Linked DNA regions of Homo sapiens. The protein of the gene in region 1 purifies or fractionates together with the protein of each later gene. This does not show direct contact. Each region holds a gene or a part of one and is shown in the gene's direction. Other genes may lie near its edges.

Region 1 (3,500 bases):
GAGTGGGAGAGTGGGGTCCCAAATATTGCATGCTTATACTAAAAAAAAATTATTTGTTTTTTATTTGAAAGTCACATTTACCTAGGCATTTTTAAATTTTATCTGGCAACCTTAAGTGGGAACCAAACATAATTTGTAGGCTGCATATGGACCACAGGGTACCAATTGGCAACTGCAGTAGAACGTGTATTATTATTACTCCTGAGAGACTGTGAGGTGGTGATAGCTAAGGCTGGGGGAGGAATGTCATGGAGAGCCCTGTGCCATGAAGGCTTCTAGAGAGACTCAGCGTACTCTAAGGACAAACTGCAAGAAGCCTTCTGCCTAGACCAGGGGTTTCAGAGTACAGATGCCCCTGCTTTTCTTCACACTGCTTTTCTCTGCTTCTTTTCCTTGTCCATTGGCCCCCTTCTCTCCTGTTACAGAAAAATCTCCTCCACAAGGTAAGGAACACAGCTGTTGCTGTCCCTGTTGGCGTCTCTGATGGAAAGGGCTCCTTTCTTCCAGGAGAATTCAAGTGTTTTAGAATTACATGCCCATATCTTAGACTAATCACTTGAATAACTGGAGAAACTCAAAAGTGCCTCAATGAGAGGCAAATCTAAGGTGTACAATAGCTGGCTCTTAGGGGCTTGTGAAAGCCAATTGTTAACTATTCAGGAATTGTGCAAGCAGGTAAACTGCTGTTGGTGACTTGAAACAGGCCATGGTGGGAATATTTACACCGTGGAGATGGGCAAGCGCTACCTGTCAGGGCAGTGTTTTTGTTTTCTGTTTTTTTGTTTTGTTTTGTTTTGTTTTTAGCAGCATACAACATAATAATAGCAAATACTTAAATTGGATTTGCTGGTGTGCCAGGCTCTGCTCTAAGCATTTTACATCTGTTAGCCCTGCAGCACTGGTTTCTTATAAGCAGGATCGTGATGTGGACTTTTTATTGTCCATAGTACTTTGTACCACAGGGTGACTCAGTGTATTTTTTGTTGCTTTTTTCCTTTTAATGATTGAATAAAAATCTGTAAAACATGCAGGTCAGTGATTTTCAGTGTTCTCTGTGCTTCAGAGAGGGCCCTCTCTACCCTGTATGCTTGGAAGCTCTGGGTAGTTTTAAGAAGTGTCACCTATGGTTCTGAATCACCACCAGGGTTAAGAACTGTTGATATATAGTGTTAACATAATGTGGTTCAATTAACAGTTGACCTGGATAAGGTCACATTGCACTGGATGGAAGTACATGTGTAGTGATTTTAATTAGCTTTATGACAGGGAGCAACTCGATTTGACATTTCACAAGGAGCCTTTGCTTTCTCCATGCTCATATCCTGACACTCAGACCCCGACACCCCTACTCCAGCTGTGTGCAGGCCCCTCAGTTTCTGAACCTGAGTTGCCCCCCATTCCCTCTGCATTCACCCAGCGAACTGCTGCATCTAAGTATCAGTGTAAACCTCACTACCCAGGAGAGATTTCCCCTGCTCCTCTGCCTCCCTCTTCTCCCTAAAAGTATGACATGTTATCGAAACCTGTTGTGGGTTAATATCTGTAGAAGAAGGGTCAGATTGTTCAGTGTGTCCTTTTGGACACTGTGCAGGTTGACTCAGACAACTGTTCTGCTCAGGCTCAAGTTTACCCAACACTGGCCAAAGAACACTTCGAGGTAGAATAAGGTTGGACCATCTACCTTTTGTGCACTTTTTGTTTGGTATGTACAGTTCTTTTAAAGTTAGCCAGCACTTAAAAACCAGATATTTTACTCAAAAACCTAGCATTTTTTGTTGTTGAGAAATAAGATCTGTCAGCAATCAACAGAGTATTTATTATTGTAATTATTGTACTTGCTTCCAGAGGCTTTCTTTGTCCTTTGTCTTTAGATTTTTTTTTTTTAATGGTTTTTGTGTATGTGTGTGTGGAGAAACAAGAGTGATTACCTGTATCTGATAGAGGCATCATGACTTGTTTAGATCACCTTCCTGGTCCCCATATGTATTTCCCTGACATGGGGCCTTTCTGGCCAGAATGGACCAAGGATGGATGGATAGAGTGGTCATCATCTTTATCATCTTAGTGATGTATTAAATAAGTTTAAAAAGCTTTGTCAAGTCTTAAATTATGATCTCCAACCCATTAGAATTCAGGAGTAGGGTTAATAATTGTCTTTGGTTGTATAATTGTATGCTGACGGTATAATTTTGAATGGGACAGCTACCTGGGGCATGCAGGGGATGATAAATTGCTTGTGAAGGAGAATTATACTGCAGAACTTCACAATTACAGATATTTCCTTCCTCCTACCTGCCCCCATCAGCAATTCCATTAGGGTTTTAGGTCTGTGACATTAAGAATGAATAGTGGGTGTTATATTTAATCTGTTTTTCTTCCCCTTATTTGCAGCTCATTTATAATAGCTTTGCCCAGTTCCTAGTTAAGGAGAAAGGGTACGATAAGGAATTGCTCAATGTGACCCCAGAGGATTGGGATTTCTGGTAAGTTCTTTTTTTTTTTTTTTTTTTAAGTCTGTACATTTCCTGTGGTTCTAATTGTTACTGATAAAACTGTAATGCTTTCTCTTCTAAGAAGATGGAATGTGAAATGTGAGATTGAGTCAAAGGACAAATGCCTTCTATATTAAAAGTTTTGTATTTAATGAATTAAAGTGTTTTCTACTTTAAACAAGTTTAGACTTGCCTAATTAAATGTGAAAATAAGCTAAGAGTTTATGTGACTAATTTGGATATTTTCATATAGTTTAAGTTTGTCATAATAGTTTCAGAGGTTAGTAAGAACTGTTTCTAAAATTTGCATCTTTAAGAAAAAGGTTTGGTTTACTATCTTTTAAGAACTATAAGAGAAAAGGAGGAATCATCACATTTTGAGTAAGTCTGAATTAGGACAATTGCTTTTCTGTCATTTAGTTCGACATTCCTAAGACTCTTACTGGGAATTCCCTTCCTGGGTTAGGACTCTCAGCTTCCCAAAGCTTCGTTTGTCTTCCTCATTTAGATAACAAAACAAACAAATATCCTAAGCCACTTTAAATTGTTCAGTTTAAAATCAGGCCAGGCAGGCGTGGTGGCAATTCTGTAATCCCAGCACTTTGGGAGGCTGAGGTGGGCAGATTGCTTGAGTCTAGGAGTTGGAGACCAGCCTGGGCAACATGACGAAACCCCAACTCTGCAAAAAATAAAAAATAATTAGCCAGGTGAGGTGGCACGTGCTTGTATTTCCAGCTACTGGAGAGACTAAGGTGGGAGGATTGCCTGAACCCAGGAGGTCCAGGCTGCTGTGAGCCGCTGATCATGCCACTGCATTCCAGCCTGGGCTACAGAGTGAGAATCAATAACAATACTAAACCACATGAAAAATACCTACATTATGTTGATCTAGTATGCATTCTTTTGATATTTTGTTAGTCTTTTTTGATGTAACATTTTTGTAAAAGGAAGAAACAGTAACATGTTACTATATGAAATTACTGACTCTGGAAGTTTTACCCTGAACAA
Region 2 (3,500 bases), on another chromosome or scaffold:
TTAATAACATTAGAAAATTAAACAGAACATTACTATGATGTGAAATATGAAGATACACTTAGAGCCAGGTACAGTGGCTCATACCTATAATCCCAGCACTTTGGGAGGCTGAGGCAGGCTGATCACTTGAGGCTAGGAGTTTGAGACCAGCCTGGCCAACCCATCTTTACGAAACTCCATCTCTACTAAAAATACAAAAATTAGGTGGGCATGGTAGCAGGTGCCTGTAGTCCCAGCTACTTGGCAGGCAGAGGCAGAAAAATCGCATGAGCCCCAGAGGCGAAGGTTGCAGTGAGCTGAGATCACACCACTGCACTCCAGCCTAGGCAAAAGAGCGAGACTCTGTCGCAATTAAAAATAAAAAAAAGAGATACACGTGGGATCTTTTTAGCGATTGATGTTACTGAAATTGTACACTTTAAAAAATTTGTGGCTCATGCCTGTAATCCCAACACTTTAGGAAGCCAAAGTGGAAAGATCGCTTGAGCCCAGGAGTTTGAGAGCAGCCTGGGCAACATAGTGAGACCCCCCCATCCCCACAAAAATAATTAAAAATTAACTGGGCATGGTTGTACGTTCCTGTAGTTGCAGCTACTCAGATGCTGAGGTAGGAGGGTCACTTGAGCTGTTAAATGAGTGATATAGATAATTAGATATGACCAAAATGGGGAGTACCTTCAGTAATATGAGAGTAGTGACTAAATAAAGATGATGTATTTTGTTTATTGCTTTGAAATAAAAATTTTGTTTTTCTCAGGTATAGGTAAGTATATATAAGGTTTTAAGAAGGTTTTGCCCCATAGTTCACATACATTTGAAGAATACATACAGTCTTAAAGCCAGAGGAATTGAACTGTAACTCAGTTGTGATATTTTTTATTACATGCTAATGGCTATGACTTGACATTTATGTAGTAATGAAAGCTTGGTGTAGAGAACCTAGATTAAAGAGTAGTTCCCAAAATGGCGAATTATGAAATATCTTGGCACTTTGAGAAAATATTTAGGTTGTATACTACCTCAAACCTCTTATGGATTGATGCAGAATGTAAGCAAATATTCAGATTATGGAGCAACTGGACAGAATGGAGAAAGAGTAAGTTTTTCTGTTTTTTTATTTTTGTTTTTGTTTATGATGGAGTCTCACTCTGCCACCCGGGTTGGAGTGCAGTGGTGCAGTCTCGGCTCACTGTAACCTCTGCCTCCTGGGTTCAAGCGATTCTCCTGCCTCAGCCTCACAAGTAGCTGGGATTACAGGCACGTGCCACCACACCTGGCTAATTTTTTGTATTTTTTGTTGAGATGGGGTTTCACCATGTTGGCCAGGCTGGTCTCGAACTCCTGACCTTAGGTGATCCACCTGCCCCGGCCTCCAAAAGTGCTGGGATTACAGGCGTGAGCTGCCATGCCCGGCCAAGAATAAGTTTTTCGGGAAGCTGAGCTGTGTACTAAGTACCTAAAACAGAGGAGGAGCTCTTTAGGGAATTTTTTTGAGACAGAGTCTGGGGCATTGGGTTTTCTATGGCCTCAAAGAGCTGCTTAAGCCTGAAGCCTGGGGAAGATAGGGGAGCCAAACAAAAAATATAGCTCTCTGCTTTTCTAAGCAATGTATCTCAAAATAACTGAAATAAACAACTTGATTGCGACCTGGGCCGGAAGTATAAGAACTCTAGCAGAAACCCAAGTGGCTGTATTTCTACAGAAGAATTCTTTCCTCTAGTTGTGGGCTTTATTTATTATTCTTATTTATTTATTTTACGTATTTAATAAAGAGAGACAGTGTCTCATTATGTTGCCCAGTCTGGTTTCAAACTCCTGGGCTCAAGTGATCCCCCTATCTTGATCTCCCAAAGTGTTGGGATTACATGTGTGAGCCACTGCACTCAGCCCTTTTTTTTTTTTTTTTTTTTTTTTTTGGAGACGGAGTCTCACTCTGTTGCCCAGGCTGGAGTGCAGTGGTGAGATCTCAGCTCATTGCAGCCTCCACCTCCTGGGTTCAAGTGATTCTCCTGCCTCAGCCTCCCAAGTAGCTGGGACTACAGGCACACACCACCACGCCCGATGAATTTTTGTATTTTTAGTAGAGATGGGTTTTCGCCATGTTGACCAGGCTGGTCTTGAACTCCTGACCTCAAGTGATCCTCCTGCCTTGGCCTCCCAAAGTGCTGGGATTACAGGTTCGAGCCACTGTGCCCGGCCATCCCACTTATAATACTTATAGTATATTTGTTTTATGTTTATGTAATTTTATATTTGTATAATGATTTTACATTTGGAATATTTATAATAATATATAATTTATGAGGTATTGTACTTGTTTTGAGGAAATTGATGAAGTCCTATAGATATGAAATTTGGGAGATTAAATGCCTCTGTTGACCTATACATTTTACTTCTCAATAAAATTTGAGGCATTTATAGAGCATATATGTATCTGCAGCTATTTTGAAAATTGTACCATTATCCTCCTGGGATTTCTTCTAATTTTTACTAACTTTGGCTTTTTCATTTTGAAATAGTGATCACATGGAAAATGTGTATGGCTATTTAATGAAGTATACCAACCTTGTCACTGGGTGGCAGTACAGGTAAGTGTGATTATTTGTGTCACATCAGTCTCTCCTAAGAGAGCAGGAATAGGGCCCAATAATTTTATATTTTGATATTACTTTAGACAGACATGGCTGGGAAACCTTTTAGAGAAGGATTTCCCACAGCTTCTAAAAGTTTGGTGACTTCTTCTTAGAGGGTGGGAAAAGTTGACATCTGTCCAAGTAGCAGCCTCTAAATGCCTCAGATGTTACTATTAAATGAGGATTAGAATCACTTGTTACCTGGCTTGGGCATTGTATACTTGCAGAAGTTAGGTTCTTAGGGGAAGAGAAATAGGGGTTTGGAGACAGCAAACACATTTGTGTTAGGTTCCCATCTTATGCCAGATTCACAGCTTCTCTGGGATCTTGAAGAGGTTAAGTAACCAGCCAAGGGTCACACAAGCTGTCAGGAAGCAGGAAAACCAGCTATCTCAAATACTTTATAGAATTGTAGTTGTGGGGCAGGCATATTAAACGGGATCAAATTGTCTACCAAGTTCTATTATAGAACAGGCTAACGTAGAATGCCAGACTTCTCCAAACCCAAACATGAATTTTTTTTTTTTTTTTGAGACGGAGTCTCGCTCTGTCACCCAGCTGGAGTGCAATGGCATGATCTCGGCTCACTGTAACCTCTGCCTCCGGGGTTCAAGTGATTCTTCTGTCTCAGCCTCCTGAGTAGCTGGAATTACAGGCATGCGCCACCATACCCAGCTAATTTTTGTATTTTTAATAGAGACGGGGTTTCACCATGTTGGTCAGGCTGGTCTCGAATTCCTGACTTCAGGTGATCTACCCGTCTTGGCCTCCCAAAGTGCAGGGATCACAGGCGTGAGCCACCACACCTGGCCACCCAACATGAATTTTAAAAGTTTAAAACTTTTTAGAGTTACTTTTTATTTTATA
Region 3 (3,500 bases), on another chromosome or scaffold:
AGGAGAATGGCATGAACCCAGGAGGCGGAGCTTGCAGTGAGCCGAGATCGCACCACTGCACTCCAGCCTGGGCGACAGAGCGAGACTCCATCTCAAAAAAAAAAAAAAAATTTTTAAACATACAAGTTGAAAGAATTTTACAGTGGGTGCCCATATACCCCTGATTAGATTCTGCCATTACCATTTTTCTGTATTTGTCACCTGTAAATTGCAGATATCAGTGTCTTTATCCTTGAATACTTCAACATGCATGTCATTAATTAGAGCTCCAGAGTTTTTTTTGTTTGTTTGTTTATTTGTTTGTTTTAAGAGACAGGGTCTTAGGCCGAGCGTGGTGGCTCACATCTGTAATTCCAGCACTTTGGGAGGCCGAGGCGGGCAGATCACTTGAGGCCAGGAGTTTAAGACCAGCCTGGCCAACATGGAAAAACGCCCATCTCTACAAAAAATACAAAAATTAGCCAGGCCTGGTGGCATGCACCTGTAATCCCAACTACTCAGGAGGCTGAGGCAGGAGAATCTTTTGAACCTGGGAGGCAGAGGTTGCATTGAGCCAAGATTGTGCCACTACACTCCAGCCTGGGTGACAGAGTGAGACCCTGTCTCAAAAAAAAGAAAAGAGACAGGGTCTCACTCTGTCGCCCAGGCTGGAGTGCAGTGGCACAATCTCGGCTCACTTGCAGCCTCTACTACCCTGGGCTCCCATCTCAGCCTCCAGAGTAGCTGGGACTACAGGGACACACCACCACGCCTGGCTAATTTTTTTTTTTTAATTTTTATTTTTTAGGTAACAGAGTTTGCCATGTTGCTCGGGCTGGTCTTGAACTCCTGGGCTCAAGCGATCCTCCTGCCTTGGCCTCCCAAAGTGCTGGGATTATAGATGTGAGCCACTGCATCTGGCCCCCAGACTATTTTCAAGCAATTCTCACAGCTAGATGTCACACTGTTTTGCCCGTAATACTTTAGCACACATTTCTAAAAGACACAAGTTTTTTTTTTAAACCATTGCCATAATTATATCTATCTAACAGAATGAATGATAATTCCTTAATCTAGTACCTAGTTCATGCTGACTGTCCTCCAGGTGGCTCAAAGATGTCTTTGAATGGTTTTATTCAAATCAGGACCCACAGGGTTTCTCTTAAGTCTCCTCATCTGTAATAATCAGCAACTCCCTTTATTAAATGCCAGTTACTTATTGAAACTGGGTCATTTGTCCCGTAGAATTTTCCATATTCTGGATTTGGCTGATTGCATCTTCCAAGTGTCATCTAACATGTTCTTCTATACCTATAAATAAGTACTAGGTCAAGAGGCTTGAATCAATTCAGGTGCAGATCCTTAGCAGGAATACTTTGAAGGTGTTTTTCTGTTTTCTCTTGCATCACGTCAAGAACATAAAGTTCAGTTACCCCACTTTTAGTGATTTTTGTTCATTAGTGAGTTTAGGGTATCAGTCTGACCTCCGTCGTAAAGTTCCCTATCACCCTCTTGCCGAATGACTTTACTGCCTGCTGATGAGCAAAGCCCAGATTATTGTTTCGTTACTATAGTGATTTTCTACTTCCGTCAATCTTTCTGTGCTTATTAGCTCTTGTTGTTTTTTGTTGTTGTTGTTGTTGTTTCTGGTTTTGTTTGTTTGTTTTGAGACAGGGTCTCTCTCTGTCATCCAGGCTAGAGTGCAGTGGCACAATCTTGGCTCACTGCAACCTCAACTTGTCAGGTTCAAGCGATCCTCCTGCCTCAGCCTCTTGAGTAGCTGGGACCACAGGCGCTCGCCACCATGCCTGGCTAATTTTATGTATTTTTGATAGAGATGAGGTTTCACTACATTGCCCAGGCTGGTCTCAAACCTGAGCTCAAACGATACTCCCGCCTTGGCCTTCCAAAGAGCTGGCATTACAGGCATGAGCCACTGTGCCCGGCCCAACTCTCATTGTTCTCTACCACACGACTTTCCTCAAGCATTTGCTTACCCTGAAATACAGTCCCTGAAAGGCAGAGTACATGGTTGATTATGTCCTTTTTTTGTGTGTGGGCGGGGCTAAGTCTATTTTCAGAGTAATGAGTAGCCCTAGCAGCCATGAAAAGTATCAACGAGTTGTTTTTGTTTTGAGGGGTGTTACGACCTTATGGTTTTTAAAGATATTTTGATGTGTTTCAATCCACTGCAGTCATCATCCGTTTGCAGCCTCTCTTTGGTAGCCCATGCCCCTGGAGGGTCCTTGTTTTCAGGCAAGAAGATATCTCAGCTCATCATGTACATTTCTGCCCCAGCCCTAGAATCAGACATTTCTCCAAGGAGTCCTGGTTCCTTTCAGTGGGAAATGTTCTTAGAGACATTATAATCTGGACACTAACGATGTCTGTGGAATTTTTACAAGATCGCCTTGGCTTCTCTGTGCATGATGAACTGGAGGGACAAGACCAGGCCAGAGAGACAGGTCAAGAGACTTTCGCAGTGGCCCAAGTGAGATATAACAGTGGCTTGAACTTGATCTTAGGTAAATCACTTAGCGCAATGCTTGGTACATGATGGAGAGCACCATAAATGGTAGCACACTCTTTCATCAATGACTTGATCTGTATTAGTTTACTTAAACTCCAAAACTGTATGAGGAAGACTTCCTTATCATTGTATACATGAGAAAACCCAAGCTCAGAGAGGTGAGGAAACTTGTTCAAGGTCACACAGGAAATGAACAGCAGAAATAGAACCTGAATCCAGATCTCGTGCTCTAACCAATGCACTGTGTCGCCCAGAGGGTTCTTGGTTTCACACTCAAAAATGACTTACATTTTGGTGCAAAACCTGATCCATCACGAGTTCATGGCGATTCTCCTGGTTGTGCCCTCAGGTTTGTGATTTTATTTGCTTCCCAGTGAGATCATAAACCCACGAGGGCAGGGCTGGGCCATTCCTGCCTGTTTGCTCCATGTCTCCAGCAGCGTGTACCACACCTGGCAGGTGCTCAGGAAATACCTGCTGATGAATGAGTGAATGGCTGAAGAAGGCAAATTCACAGCACAGCAGGGGGAGAAGCGAAGAAGGATAGGATTCCACCTGTGAAGATGGCAAGGACCAGAACTTAGGAGAGCTGAACAGTGGACTTCAGCAATTTCTGCAGGGATAATTCAAGTGAGAGGCTAGCCAGACAGATCAGACTGATAGGCCTTTAGACTGCGGAACATGTTTTCCATTGGAGGTGGAAAAACGGCTCCTCTTACCTTCCTTCAAGGCAGGGGCCGATCTGGAACCATTCAGGCCAGTTTTGCTTGGGATGGCAGATTCACCACATCAAGAATTTGATCTGAACCAGGCATGGTGGCTTATGCCTGTAATCCCAGAACTTTGGGAGGAAGAGGTGGGAAGATTGCTTGAGGACAGGAGTTCAAGACCAGCCTGGGCAACACAGAAAGACCCTATCTCTACAAAATATAAAAAAGATTAGCTAGATGTCGTGGTGTGCACCTGTAGTCCCAGCTATTTGGGAGGCTAA

What was found. The genes of interacting proteins can lie anywhere in the genome.
Region 2: the proteins of NT5DC1 (region 1) and OSBPL11 purify together in Homo sapiens (co-immunoprecipitation; one large-scale study listed by IntAct). This does not show direct contact.
Region 3: the proteins of NT5DC1 (region 1) and ACACB purify together in Homo sapiens (affinity purification with mass spectrometry; one large-scale study listed by BioGRID and IntAct). This does not show direct contact.

What each region holds. Positions count from the first base shown.
Region 1 is NC_000006.12:116,103,853-116,107,352, forward strand, and holds part of NT5DC1 (5'-nucleotidase domain-containing protein 1), read left to right. Parts: intron 1-2,391; coding exon 2,392-2,483; intron 2,484-3,500.
Region 2 is NC_000003.12:125,581,998-125,585,497, reverse strand, and holds part of OSBPL11 (oxysterol-binding protein-related protein 11), read left to right. Parts: intron 1-2,519; coding exon 2,520-2,588; intron 2,589-3,500. UniProt on the Homo sapiens protein: Plays a role in regulating ADIPOQ and FABP4 levels in differentiating adipocytes and is also involved in regulation of adipocyte triglyceride storage. Weakly binds 25-hydroxycholesterol. Interacts with OSBPL9 to function as lipid transfer proteins.
Region 3 is NC_000012.12:109,123,087-109,126,586, forward strand, and holds part of ACACB (acetyl-CoA carboxylase 2), read left to right. Parts: intron 1-1,059; exon of another isoform or gene 1,060-3,500. UniProt on the Homo sapiens protein: Mitochondrial enzyme that catalyzes the carboxylation of acetyl-CoA to malonyl-CoA and plays a central role in fatty acid metabolism.